Homo sapiens: one gene and its partners. The protein of the gene in region 1 interacts with the protein of each later gene in a pairwise test. Each region holds a gene or a part of one and is shown in the gene's direction. Other genes may lie near its edges. The genes, in order: DUSP19, KDR, ROR2 and ALAS1.

The links.
Region 2: the proteins of DUSP19 (region 1) and KDR interact in a two-hybrid assay, tested with the Homo sapiens proteins (one study listed by BioGRID and IntAct).
Region 3: the proteins of DUSP19 (region 1) and ROR2 interact in a two-hybrid assay, tested with the Homo sapiens proteins (one study listed by BioGRID and IntAct).
Region 4: the proteins of DUSP19 (region 1) and ALAS1 interact in a two-hybrid assay, tested with the Homo sapiens proteins (3 studies listed by BioGRID and IntAct).

What each region holds. Positions count from the first base shown.
Region 1 is NC_000002.12:183,085,245-183,088,813, forward strand, and holds part of DUSP19 (dual specificity protein phosphatase 19), read left to right. Parts: intron 1-1,795; coding exon 1,796-1,948; intron 1,949-3,569.
Region 2 is NC_000004.12:55,115,530-55,119,098, reverse strand, and holds part of KDR (vascular endothelial growth factor receptor 2 precursor), read left to right. Parts: intron 1-298; coding exon 299-495; intron 496-3,569. UniProt on the Homo sapiens protein: Tyrosine-protein kinase that acts as a cell-surface receptor for VEGFA, VEGFC and VEGFD. Plays an essential role in the regulation of angiogenesis, vascular development, vascular permeability, and embryonic hematopoiesis.
Region 3 is NC_000009.12:91,754,677-91,758,245, reverse strand, and holds part of ROR2 (tyrosine-protein kinase transmembrane receptor ROR2 isoform 1 precursor), read left to right. Parts: intron 1-686; coding exon 687-974; intron 975-2,144; coding exon 2,145-2,175; intron 2,176-3,569. UniProt on the Homo sapiens protein: Tyrosine-protein kinase receptor which may be involved in the early formation of the chondrocytes. It seems to be required for cartilage and growth plate development. Phosphorylates YWHAB, leading to induction of osteogenesis and bone formation.
Region 4 is NC_000003.12:52,204,591-52,208,159, forward strand, and holds part of ALAS1 (5-aminolevulinate synthase, non-specific, mitochondrial isoform 1 precursor), read left to right. Parts: intron 1-102; coding exon 103-325; intron 326-1,248; coding exon 1,249-1,433; intron 1,434-1,981; coding exon 1,982-2,161; intron 2,162-3,492; coding exon 3,493-3,569.

The sequences.
Region 1 (3,569 bases):
TGACAGAATCTTATCACAGAACTGATAAATTGAGGAATATCACCCTATATGGAATGATCAAACAAAGAAGAGTCCGCAGTGGGAAAGGAGGATCTAAAAGAGGCCCAAAGAAGGTAAAACAAAAAGATGGTGTCATGGAAACTAAAGAGAATAGTGTTTTAAGGAGGAGAGAGTCAGCAATGTCAGATGCTGTAAAAGTTTAAGTACGATTAGGACTAAATTATATCCATGGGACTTGGTGACAGAGAGGTTGTTAGTGCGTTTGGTGGAAACAGTTTCATTTGAATTGGAGGCCAAAGCCATATTGCAAAAGATTGAGAAGTGAGGAAGTGATGGCAAAGGGAAAAAAAAAAAGAGAGAGAGGAGCCATAGGTGAGGAGGGGGAGGGGAGAGCTTTGAGCATGTTTTAAGGCTGATGGTAGAAGAAGGAATTGAAGATACAGAAAAGCAAGAATTATGACTATAGGGAGATGCCAAGAAAGTAGGAAGCACTGTGACTCCAAGCACAGGTTCTGGAATGAGCCTTATCGAAGATGCACGAGCACATCCTTCATTGTAATCAGAAGGCAGAGGGGAAGTACAGATGTGGACAAGGTTGTTAGGTTTTTTTTTTTTTTTTTTTTTTTTTTTTTTTTTTTTGAGGCAGAGTCTCGCTCATTTGCTCAGGCTGGAGTGCAGTGGCATGATCGTGGCTCACTGCAACCTTTACCTCCTGGGTTCAAGTGATTCTCAGCCTTTGGATTATCTTAATGGACTGTCTGCCTGGCTTTCTTCCACATGGTTGGTGGACTCTAGGAAAAGGGGCTCAAATACATAGATGCAAGAGGAGGAGGTTGCTCAAGTGTACCATCTGAAAGAAAATATTTTACAACCACACCTCCCCTTACTTTTCAGCCAGATTGGTTCATCAGAATCTCTGGGTATGAGACCCTGTGTTATTGATAGTTTTTAAGAGTTCATCAGGTGACTCTAATGTGCAGTCATCCTGGAGAACCATTTTATAAAGTAAAGAATATGAAGGAAAATAGGGAAATAATTCTTGAAAGGGAAGTTGTATACCACTGATACACTTCTCCTATTTAAGTTTTTATATGGATATTCACAGATTAATTCAACAAAGATTTTAAGCATTTTCTGCTAAACTCACTGCTCATTCGCTTATAACACTAAGTTAAACATGGTCCCTACCCTCATGGAGTTTCTAGTGCAGTGAAAGAGAAAAACAATCTCTAAATGGCATGAGCTATAATAGGGCAAGTCCAGGGCTATGAAAATATATAGGCCAGGTGTGGTGGCTTATACCTGTAATGCCAGCACTGTGGGAGGCGGAAGTGGGAGCATCACTTGAGGCCAGGAGTTCGAGACCAGCCTGGGCAAAAAAAGTGAGACCCGCCCCCCTCTTCTCTGAAAAAAAAAAAAAAAAAAAAAATTAGCTGGGTGTGGTGGTACACGCCTGTAGTCCCAGCTACTTGGGAGGCTGAGGCAGGAGGATCACCTGAGCCTAGGAGTTCAAGATTGCAGTGGCCTATGATTGCATCATTGCACTCCAGCCTGGGTGACAGAAAGAGACCCTGTCTCTGCATGATGATAATAATAAGTTAAAAGAGAGAGAGAGAGAGAGAAAACATATAGTAGAAGGAGCACTTCTGGTGTGGGATTGAAGCAGTATTATCATTCAAGTGAGTCGCATTTAAATTTTTTACCTTTCTTGTTATAGATATCAACACCCCAGTCTCTTTTTAGGTAACCTAATTCATGGGATTTAAAACAATCATCTTTTTTCTTTCTCTTTAAGGTGACTCATATTCTTAATGTTGCATATGGAGTTGAAAATGCTTTCCTCAGTGACTTTACATATAAGAGCATTTCTATATTGGATCTGCCTGAAACCAACATCCTGTCTTATTTTCCAGAATGTTTTGAATTTATTGAAGAAGCAAAAAGAAAAGTGAGTTTTGTTTTGATCCATAGTTCTGCAGAAGCAGAAATTTGAAAGTGTGGATCCATTACCCAATCTTTATTATTTTTATAATGAATCTCTAAAAAACAATTATGAAATTTCCCTTCTAACAATATTTCATTATTTCCTACAATTATTTGGTTAATTGCTCTTTTTTCAATGAGATGTTTAGTTTCAACATTAATTCAGACTATAAAACAGAGACTGCTCTAGACTTGTTAGTGTATTTATGATGATTAATATGCATTTGATTTTAATGAATGAGATAGTTATTGTGAAACTATGCATTTTTAGCAGTAAAATTTTAAGGCACTCTAAGGACTAAATGTGTATTGCTTTACTTAGATTGTATGAAAATGCTGATCAGAAACTGTCTGTTGGTTTTCTGAAGTTAGAAGACCAATAGCCAATGTCATATAGTACTTCAGGCTTGTTATTGAAGTCAACATTCTGACAGGCAAAGTTTCTAGGTTGGCTGTTATCAACAATTATTCCTTGAAATGTCATCATTTTTAGTCAGCAAATAATTCTTACAGACTTTATGTAAGATACGTAGATGGGAAAGTAGAAGCATTTACAGAGAGAAATAACTCTTCTGGAACACCTAACAATGACAGGATTACAATCAGGTTTAATTGAACTCTGGCCTACCTTCTCTCCCTTTATCTTTTCTCCTTCCCATTTTCTCTTCCTCTCTCCCTTCTTTCCTTTCATTTAGTAATATTTATTGAATGCCTTAGGTGCCCAGCACTGTTCTACGTGCCTTCCTACTAGACTACCCAGAAAATATAAAACTATTCAATTCTACTGTTCATCAACTTTACTTAATAGCAGATACAGTCATGCACTGCATAATGATGTTTGGACTGCATATATGATGGTGGTTCCATAAGATTATAATAATGTATTTTTACCATACCTTTTCTATGTTTATGTATGTTTAGATACACAAATACATACCATTGTGTTACTGTTGCCTACAAGTCAGTACAGTAACATCTGAACAGGTTTGTAGTCTTGGAGCAATAGGCCATACCATTCTAGGTTTGTGTGAGTGCACTCTGTGATGTTTACACCACGAAGAAACTGCCTAACAACACATTTCTCAGAATGCATCACCATTGTTAAATGATGCACGACTGTATTTGGATGGAAGCAAAGGAAGAGGTTTTTTTTGTTTTTTGTTTTTTGTGTTTTTTTTTTTTGTTTTTTTTTTTTTTGAGATGCAGTCTCACTCTGTCGCCAGGCTGGAGTGCAGTAGTGTGATCTCGGTGCACTGTAACCTCCGGCTCACTGCAACCTCCGCCTCTCGGGTTCAAGTGATTCTCCTGCCTCAGCCTCCCAGGTAGTTGGGACTATAGGAGCACACTGCCACACCCGGGTAATTTTTTGTATTTTAGTAGAGACAGGGTTTCACCGTGTTGCCCAGGCTGGTCTTGAACTCCTGAGCTCAGGCAGACCACCTGCCTCAGCCTCCCAAAGTGCTAGGATTACAGGCATGAGCCACTGCACCTGGCCAAGGGAGAGGTTTTTTAATTCAAAGCCTAATATTGGCCATTCTGTTTTCTTGTTAAAAAATTTACAGGCTCTGGATTGTAACATTCCAGTG
Region 2 (3,569 bases), on another chromosome or scaffold:
TAGCTGGGATTACAGGCATGCGCCACCACACCTGGCTCATTTTTGTATTTTTAGTAGAGACAGGGTTTTACCATGTTGCCCAGCCTGGTCTCGAACTCCTGGCCTCAGGTGATCCATCCGCCTTGGCCTCCCAAAGTGCTGGGATTATAGGCATGAGCCACCATGCCTGGCCGGTAGAAGACTGACTGTGTCTGTTGAAGAGTTTATTTAAGTTTCAAAACCAAATTTTCTCTTTTCTTAGAAATAGCCTCACAGTCTGGCACTTCATATTAATACCTCCCTGAAATTAATTTTTCAGGGGACAGAGGGACTTGGACTGGCTTTGGCCCAATAATCAGAGTGGCAGTGAGCAAAGGGTGGAGGTGACTGAGTGCAGCGATGGCCTCTTCTGTAAGACACTCACAATTCCAAAAGTGATCGGAAATGACACTGGAGCCTACAAGTGCTTCTACCGGGAAACTGACTTGGCCTCGGTCATTTATGTCTATGTTCAAGGTAAGTGGTGAAATAAAATTCATTTCCCACGTCTCTTTACCAGTTATAAAAGACAATAGGCTCAAAGAAGAATTGAGTACAACAAAGGGCTTGCTCTAAAGGCTGTTTGCCAAGAGGAATACACACAATTCTTCTCTCCTGAGGCTTTCTCTGAGAAATAAGACTCATTGATTCTGGAGCTTGGGCCGTGTTACCTCTTTTTTGCCCAGTTAGTTTGGGTCTGATCTTTGTTTCCAAGGTAAATCTGTGTTCACTGTTGGCCATTGAGACTTATAAAAAGTCTTCCTATGTTTGAGAAGAAAACCTAAAATTCTTGAAATCGAGGAAGATTTGGGGGTGAATTATGGAGAAATTTCTGTGGAGAGATAAGTTATCTACAGCAGAGTAGGAGATTTTCCCAAGAATGCATAGGAAAGCATTTTTTGCCAAGGGCTCTGGAGTTTTTTGCACATAGGAACCTTTTTTTCTTACTAGTATTTCATAAAAAACAATTCCCATACTCATGTGCAAATAAAGACATTGCTTCAGACTCTTTTCAGGACAATGTTTCTTTCCTTTGCTTGTTTGGTCTGAGATCTTGGATGATATGCTGTATCTTTCTAGGATGTGCAGTTTGGGATTGATATTATGAAGGCTGACTTAACATCCATATAGTATAAAATAAATGTCACACATATTCTGCATTTATAATGAGTTATGCATTCTTTTGTGTTTCAAAAATCTTACACTATCTTATCTTTTCTGTGAAAACCTAACTTAACTAATGAGATCCCTATGATATAAATTTAAGGAATGTAAGGGCTGCATCATAGTTTGGTTGGATGTACCAAATATTTTTCTTTTCAGTGAAGATAAACAGACATTTTATGTATTTACGTATATGCCTTTTTACATCCCAGAGTATTTGAGACAGGTGAAGATGACTTAGACTTTTTTCCCAGAAGCAGCTTTTACAGGGCAAGAATTTCATCAGCTTTGGGAAACACACTTGCATATCTCTGCTTACATTTCAGTAGTGTAATATGGTCAGTGCAATGAAAAAGTGGAGACCACATCAAAATAACCTATGCCACTGGATTCACAATGTTTGAGAAATATCTTTGCCCAGAGTAAGCACTGTCAAAGATAGAATTCTGTGCCCTCCTCCTTCCCTCCACAAGATTTGAAAGAGACAAGGCTCACATCTTGGAGAATTTCTGGCTCCTTTTGACCTGGCAGTCTTGAGAGATGCAGCTCGGTCAGAAGATTGCAAGGATTTCCTGCTTTCAGCCTGTCTAGAAATACTACAAGATGAACATCCCCCATATCTCATTATTTACTTCTTCCTAAGTCAGGAAACTTGGAGACATGTGAAAATTCATTTCATGAGTTTCAGTAAATATTTTATTTTGAGAGGCTGGGTGGTGGTTTGGGTTTCTTTTGTTTATTTCCTTTTTTTGAGATACCGAAATAGAATTGATTTACTAAATAGGTTTAGTCTTACGTCAAAGGGTTAATTTAGCTTCCAAAGGCTTGCTCTGTAAGCAAGTTATGTAATATTTCATAACATGTGGATGAAAGGTAGGCAATATTAAGAAGTGGCAATCCCTAGCACTGTTTATTGGTACACTGCCTGTCTTTGGGTATACCATTAAATTCTGCTTCCTGTCTAAGCTTAAAGTTCTAGGAGTTGGGCTGTCCAAGATTTTGGCCATGAAGTTAAACAATGGGAAAGGAAACACTGAAGTATTCTCTATGGATAGGTGTTTAATGTCCCCTCTGGTCGCCACCTTACTTCCCTAGTCTTCTGACCCCATTCTCTTCAGCAATGGATGGAGCCAGGAAGTGAGCCCTGGCCTCATAAGATAATGGCTATGGCATGTGGTGGGCTAGATTGGCTGCTTTTCTGTGCTTTCCAGCTGGGAAGGAAATCAAACTTCTGCTGTTGCAGGGAATTAGCTGCCTTTGTCCCCTGTGGTTTAATTAACTCTTTCTTCACTTTGACTGACTATTATGAAGCACTCTGAGAATGCTTGATGGGATGTGTTGGGCATAGCAATGTGAAATGTTATCTCTCTGAGATTTCAAGCATGACTCCACACCACATCATCTCTATCTCTGAGGAATGGACTAGGTTTCCAGCAGCATGTTAACATTGTATGAGTAATGTTTGATTGGCCTTGAAATCTTTTTTTTTTTTTTTTTTTGAGACGGAGTTTTGCTCTTGTTGCCCAGGCTAAAGTGCAGTGGTGCTATCTCAGCTCACTGCAACTTCTGCCCCCCGGTTCAAATGATTCTCCTGCCTCAGCCTCTGAAATAGCTGGGACTACAGGTGCGTGCCATCATGCCTGGCTAATTTTTTGTATTTTTCGTAGAGATGGGGTTTTGCCACGTTGGTCAGGCTGGTCTCAAACTCCTGACCTCAAGTGATCCACCTGCCTCAGCCTCCCAAAGTGCTGGGATTACAGGCGTGAGCCAAGAACCCAGTCAGAATCTCTTCAGTTTTCTTCTCAGTCTTTGGAGTGGTGACTTTTCAAATGTTTGTCATTGAAGATATCAATGACTGCTAAATGTTAAACTAAATGCAAAAACAATTAAACATGGTTTTAGAAAGAATCATATCCCTAGTCTTCAGAATCTTAAAATGCTCACATGAATGGTCCTCTTGAATAACCAAATTCAAAAGTGTTAGCTGTTTCCTGTTAATCTAAAGATCCTTTGGGATCCATTCATTTATTTTCATGGAATTTACATTATTTACCTAAAGAGAGAGCACATGAGTATTTTAAATATTAGTAAAACTTGTCGGTAAAGTGTATAGATTTAACTTTAAATTTTAAAGTAAATATTATCCTTCATTTTGAAAAAATTATAATGATTAATCTTTTAAAATGTGAAATCTATAAAAATATATTCTGCTTGTCAATAAACCTTGTGAAAGGAGTCAATCTCAATTGGGAGTTTTTTTTCAAAATTTTTATACACACAGATATATACACATGCATGTGCATGCACAAACACACACACACACATACACACACACCCTCATGTAGCACAGATATCTATCAGCAGAATAATCTGTGGATGCCTTTGGT
Region 3 (3,569 bases), on another chromosome or scaffold:
AACCTCCAAATCAATACTTACGGTGCTTTTGTGGCCTTTCACAGACACACGCCCACGGCAGTGAAAAATTTGTGTCCCAGCTGGGGCTAAACAAGGCGATGGTCTGCTCCCTGGTTTCTGCCCTCATATTGTGAACATGTGGCCTTTTCTTGGTCTATTTAGTGCCAAGTTTCTTGCATATTTGGGCTTTTTGTTGGTGATTTTATTGTTTATGATGGCCCCCAGGCACAGCACTGAAGTGGTCTGGTGTTCCTAAGTGCAAGAAAGCTGCGACATGCCTTATGGAGAAAAAAATGTGTGTGAGAGAAGCTTCGTTCAGGCATGAGTTATGAGGCTGTTGGCCATGGGTTCAATGTGAAGGAATCAACAGTACACATTGAATATGGTGTCTTTAAACAGAAACACACATAAACCAAGGTTATGTATTGGTTGGTTGGTGAAAGTATTATGACGAGAGGCTCACAGGAATTTGACTCTGTATTTCCCATAGGAGCAGTGGTTCAGTATTCACTAATTCAGTGTTCCCTGTAGCTTTCTAGAAGATAATTACCGCAGATAACAACCTATTTTAGTAGGTGACAAAAATCGAAACCTTCCCTTGGAAGAGTTCATAGCAGAGCCCCCAGGTAGCCCTTCCTTCCAGCCCTCACTGACGCTTGCTCTTTTGTGACCGCTCTCCTTGGCAGGTTACTTTCTGAATTTTCTGGAGCCAGTAAACAATATCACCATTGTCCAAGGCCAGACGGCAATTCTGCACTGCAAGGTGGCAGGAAACCCACCCCCTAACGTGCGGTGGCTAAAGAATGATGCCCCGGTGGTGCAGGAGCCGCGGCGGATCATCATCCGGAAGACAGAATATGGTTCACGACTGCGAATCCAGGACCTGGACACGACAGACACTGGCTACTACCAGTGCGTGGCCACCAACGGGATGAAGACCATTACCGCCACTGGCGTCCTGTTTGTGCGGCTGGGTGAGTTGGACAGTGAAATTGTGTGGGTTAGCAGATATGAAGGTTCCCAGCCACCGAGCAAGAGGTCCAGTTGCTATTTGAAACTGAACACACACCAGTCAGCACGAGGGGAGAGCAATGAAACCGTTCCCTAGGGCCTTCCCCATGTGCCCCAGGGCCCAGCTTGACCTGTTACCCATTTACTAGTAATAAGAGAAAATAGGGCGAGGCACGGTGGCTCACGCCTGTAATTCCAGCACTTTGGGAGGCCGAGGTGGGCGGATCACCTGAGGTCAGGAGTTTGAGATCAGCCTAGCCAACATGGTAGTAGTTGGCCAGTTTAGTAGAAACTCCATCTCTACTAAAAATACAAAATTAGCCTGGCATGGTGGCGGGCGCCTGTAATCCCAGCTACTCAGGAGGCTGAGGCAGGAGAATCGCTTGAACCTGGGAGGTGGAGGTTGCAGTGAGCCGAGATCACGCCATTGCATTCCAGCATGGGTGACAAGAGTGAAACTCTGTCTCAAAAAAAAAAAAAAAAAAAAAAAAGAGAACAAAAAGAAAATAGGTGCAGATGGAGAGGTTTATGGACCTGGAGCCCAGAAGACAATCCCAGGCACACACGAGGAGCTGAGGTGTTTAGCAGGAAGGCTGTTTGTTAGGAGGTCAGGTGTCAGTGGGAGAGTGGCCACACTGCAGGACGGCTAGGTAGGGCCCGAGGCTGACCTGGCTGGGGTGGGGAGAGAGCTGAGTGCGATGACCAGAGATTCTGAGTCTCTGTGCTCGTCACACCTGGTGAAGGAATTAAGTGGCAGGAAGGACTGTGTCCCCCTTCATCCCACCTGTGAAAAACTCCCAGGCAGCAAACGCCCCGGCCCTGCCACCGAAGCCCACGCCATCCGATCATAAGTAGTAAAACAGATTTTGTGTGTAAAGACTAGATGAGAAGAGAGAGAGTAAGGACAGCAAAAACTCCAAAAACAAAGATATCCTCAGTGACAAAGCACCCCTTCCCTTGTGTGTGGTTTCCAGCCTTGCTGACGTAATCACGAGTGGAGCCTGAGGCCCGAGGACAGCTGCCCACCAGTGAGCCCGCTGGCTTCAGCCTGTTTGCCACTGGCCTGATTTGAAGAAGGTTGTATTCCAAATCATGGAGTATTAATAACTTGTCTTTTTGTTTCCTCTTTTTAGGTCCAACGCACAGCCCAAATCATAACTTTCAGTAAGTATCTGTTTTCCCCAAGCCGTGTTCTGCTGCTCTGAGGGTTTTTGTTATGTAGGAATCCGGGGTTTAAATCCTGCCAGCTCATGTCTTTGCCGAATTTGCTAGAAGTTGGCTGGGCTTCACACAGGGGTGGCCACGTGCTTGCTTAGGGTTGGGAAACATTTACATTTTTCATGTTTCTTGTACAGAAAAAAAGTCAGAAAAACAAAAATGGTTAATTTCTTTCTGTGATTGTGACCTTACACAGGGCTACTGAGAGGAGTATAAATATACAGGCCAGGTTGCCTGGGCACCAGGAAGGATACCGGCTCATTAGGACATTGGGAAACAGGGACGTAATTCACTCTGAAATCCCAGCACTACCAGCTGCAGTTAATAAATGTGTGCCCCTGAGCCTTGGGCCACCCCGTGGCAGTGGGTGGGAGTCTCAACCCCACCTTGCAGATGAGGAGACCGAGGCTCACAGCCAGGCTCACACTCCTTCACGAGCTGCTGACAGCAGTGGCTTTGAACTCAGGCCTCTGGTTTCCCAGTACGAGGTTATTCCACTGTGGCCAGGCTGTCTTGGGAGAGTCCCCTCTGAACTGCCCACACTCTCCCATCGTGTACCCAGAGGAGTGCTCATTCCATTGCCGGTGTTTGAGATGAGCAGTGACTGTCCGGGTTTCCTGCATTTCCTCCTCAGACATATTGGAGAGCAGTGCTTCACTTTGAGATGTTCTGAACAATAGCATGAACACTATATGGTTGGTAAAGTGTGCAGTGTTGGCTGATTTCTGTTTCCCTGGGCCTTGTACCCATTACCCACCCATGATGTGCTGCAACACCACGTTGGGAGGCTGGGCAGGGCAGCGACCTGTCTCAGCAGACATCAGCAGCTTGCTTGCAGAGGGCAGATTTTTTTCCCCCCCCAAATAGACAGGCCTGGCTTTTCACCCAGACTGGAGTGCAGTGGCACGATCACAGCTTACTGTAGTCTTGTACTCCTGGGCTCAGGCCATCCTCCCCCTTCAGCCTCCCAAGTAGCTGGGACTGCAGGTGCGTGCCACCACACACCCGGATAATTTTTTCTTATTTTTTGTAGAGATGGGGTCTCACTATGCTGTCCAGACTGGTGACAAACTCTTGCCTCGAGCAATCCTCCTGTCTCGCCCTCCCAAATCACTGGGATTGTAGGTGTGTGCCACCACACCTGACCTAGAGGGAAGATATTTGGGAAGATTCTGTGCTGAGCAATAGTGATGGAGCATTTTTCCTTAATAGTCCTTCAGACACAGAGTAAGGAAAGAAGAAATTGCATCATGAGCACAATTATGGGGCTTTGGAAAAAGGCATATAAGTCATTTCAAAAGTTGAACTATTGTTCTCTCTTATTTTATATTTATGTCTTT
Region 4 (3,569 bases), on another chromosome or scaffold:
CAGGATCTCCCTCAGTTGCCAAGCTGAGACTTGTTGTATTTCACCAAAATGCAGCTGTGTTTCACAACCACCATTCTGTACTGTCTTTTGTTCAATTTTTAGCTGTTTCCACTTTTCAGTATGATCGTTTCTTTGAGAAAAAAATTGATGAGAAAAAGAATGACCACACCTATCGAGTTTTTAAAACTGTGAACCGGCGAGCACACATCTTCCCCATGGCAGATGACTATTCAGACTCCCTCATCACCAAAAAGCAAGTGTCAGTCTGGTGCAGTAATGACTACCTAGGAATGAGTCGCCACCCACGGGTGTGTGGGGCAGTTATGTAAGTAGCCCTTGGCTTTCAAATATTACTGTTGTTATTTGGCAAGCCAATGATGATGTATAGGGGTTGGATCTTTTATGGAGGGAACATTCAGTAGCTGAAAGTGTGCCATAGCAAAATACTATTCTTAGCTTCTGAAAAATATCTACAGATTACTTTTAAAGGAACTCTAATATGCAGGTAGCTGCTGGAGCCCCTTAACTTGTGAGGGTTCAAGCTTATAGGCTCAATGACCACACACGTCAGTCCACTTTCTATCACTCTGCAAGTGAGTGTGCCTTTAACACCAGGCAGTCTTTCACAGAGACATCCTTGGTTGTGGCTGTGAGTGGAGAAATACGAATCTAGCAGCGCTAGAGAAAAAGCTACTCCAAAAGACATGTTAAAAAGGATGGTAGATCCCATCACTCGTCCTTCAGGAGGCTCACCATCCTAGGGATGCTGGAGAGAGTTGCTGGCCAGATTCTCCAAAGGCTTGCTAAAGAGGGTCCCGGTTTGAGGTTTAATGATAGTGATATATCCAAACATTACATGACTGGCTTGCAGAGGGTAACCACCATCCAGGATGTCCCTCTAGAGTTTGCTTTTTCTTAAGCTAACATGTTATTGGAAAGAATAATGTTTCTCAGAAAATAAACCTTAGTTTCTTAGAAAAGAAACTCAGCTAATACCAAGCACTTACTGACTGTTAAATGAACACTTGTTCTTGATGATTCCTGGAGGTATCATCACCCTAGCATTGACACCTTCTCCCACCTAGTCTGAAGATGAAATCAGTTGAAATTTCTGACCCCAGGTTTCACAGTGAGAGAGTTGCTACATCAACATGTTTCAGTCTCCTGGATCCTAGAAAGGGGAAAAAATTCACATGGTGTTGAGAACCATGAGCTTTATTTTCTGGTTTTGTTTGTATTTTTAAACAGGGACACTTTGAAACAACATGGTGCTGGGGCAGGTGGTACTAGAAATATTTCTGGAACTAGTAAATTCCATGTGGACTTAGAGCGGGAGCTGGCAGACCTCCATGGGAAAGATGCCGCACTCTTGTTTTCCTCGTGCTTTGTGGCCAATGACTCAACCCTCTTCACCCTGGCTAAGATGATGCCAGGTAAGGAAGCCTGGCATGAGTGCCTTCGAGTTTTTTGGGTTTCTTAGTAATAACAAGAATATTGGCAACAAAGAAGCCTTACCAGAACCTCTCAATTGAAAATCATAATCCTATCTGGGCATTTGTTCTGGGGTCAAGCATGAAATGCTGACTGTACATTATGGGTTCCAGGAGAACGTGATACCAGTGAAAATTCAAACTTGAAACGTCTCATCCTTGAGCTAATTGCCTCAAATATGTTTTGTATTCTAAGATGATCCTTTGGAGAAGTCTCTTAATCATTTAGTTAGCTCTTGATTGAGTTTGGAGTGAGGCAGTCAGATTTAAGAGCAGATTAATGGCCTGCCACAAGGTTATTCTACACCTTTGGGCCTTCTCACAAGGGAAGCACTAACTAGTTATTTTGCCAGGAAGAAACTGGCACACAGTGTCTTTTTCCTACTAGGCATTTTCAAAGCATCATTTCCAAGGAAAAGTCTGTTGTCTTTCTCTAGGAAATAATTTGTCTTCGATGCACATGGCAATAAATAGCATTTTTGTTGTCTTAGGCTGTGAGATTTACTCTGATTCTGGGAACCATGCCTCCATGATCCAAGGGATTCGAAACAGCCGAGTGCCAAAGTACATCTTCCGCCACAATGATGTCAGCCACCTCAGAGAACTGCTGCAAAGATCTGACCCCTCAGTCCCCAAGATTGTGGCATTTGAAACTGTCCATTCAATGGATGGTAAGTGTGGATAGAGGTTCCTCTGAAACCTAAGATGAAAAACTATGCCTGAACTCTTTAAAAGTATGGTGTTTTGTTGTGTTTTTTAATTTTTTTTTTTTGTGACCGATCCTCGCTCTGTTGCCCAGGCAGGAGTGCAGTGGTGCGATCTCGACTCACTGCAAGCTCCGCCTCCCGGGTTCACGTCATTCTCCTGCCTCAGCCTCCCGAGTAGCTGGGACTACAGACACCTGCCACCACGCCTGGCTAATTTTTTTTTTTTTTTTTTTTGAGACGGAGTCTCCCTCTGTCACCCAGGCTGGAGTGCAGTGGCGTGATCTCGGCTCACTGCAAGCTCCACTTCCTGGGTTCACGCCATTCTCCTGCCTCAGCCTCCTGAGTAGCTGGGACTACAGGCGCCTGCCACCACGCCCAGCTAATTTTTTGTATTTTTAGTAGAGACAGGGTTTCACCATGTTAGCTAGGATGGTCTCGATCTACTGACCTTGTGATCTGCCCGCCTCAGCCTCCCAAAGAGCTGGAATTACAGGTGTGAGCCACCGCACCTGGCCTAACTTTTTGTATTTTTAGTAGACGGGGTTTCACTGTGTTAGTCAGGATGGTCTCAATCTCCTGACCTTGTGATCCGCCCACCTTGGCGTCCCAAAGTGCTGGGATTACAGGCGTGAGCCACCGCGCCTGGCCTGTTGTGTTTTTTAATTTTCTTTTCCTTTCTGCCAGGATTTTTTTTTTTCTTCTTCCAACTTTTAGGTTCAGTGGGTACATGTGCGGGTTTATTATATGGGTAAATTATGTGTCACAGGGTGTTGGTGTACCAATTATTTCATCACCTAGGTAGTAAGCATAGTACCCAATGGTAGTTTTTGATCTCACCCTCCTCCCACCCTCCACCCTCAAGTCGGTCCCTGGTGTCTGTTGTTCCCTTCTTTGTGTCCATGTGTTCTCAGTGTTTAGCTCCCACTTATAAGTGAGAGCGATATTTGGTTTTTCCGTTCCTGTATTAATTCACTTAGGATGGCCTCTAGCTCCATCCGTATTGCTGTAAAGGACATGGTCTCATTCTTTTTTTATTGCTGTGTAGTATTGCATTCTGCCAAGATTTGTAATTGGTGGACTTTTTTCTAATAGATTTGGGTGAAAGTGGATTTTCTATTCTGGCTTTTACTAGGCTCTGGGACCCCAGGTAACCTAGAAATTAGAGGAAGTTCATTTTCTTTCCAATATTGAAAATGATACCTTAGAATAGAAGTTTACGTTGTTCTGACTCTAACCAAAACAGAAATTTCTGAAGCGGCAAAAGCTCTTCAGAGCAGTCTCTGGTCTTTCCTCAGGGGCGGTGTGCCCACTGGAAGAGCTGTGTGATGTGGCCCATGAGTTTGGAGCAATCACCTTCGTGGATGAGGTCCAC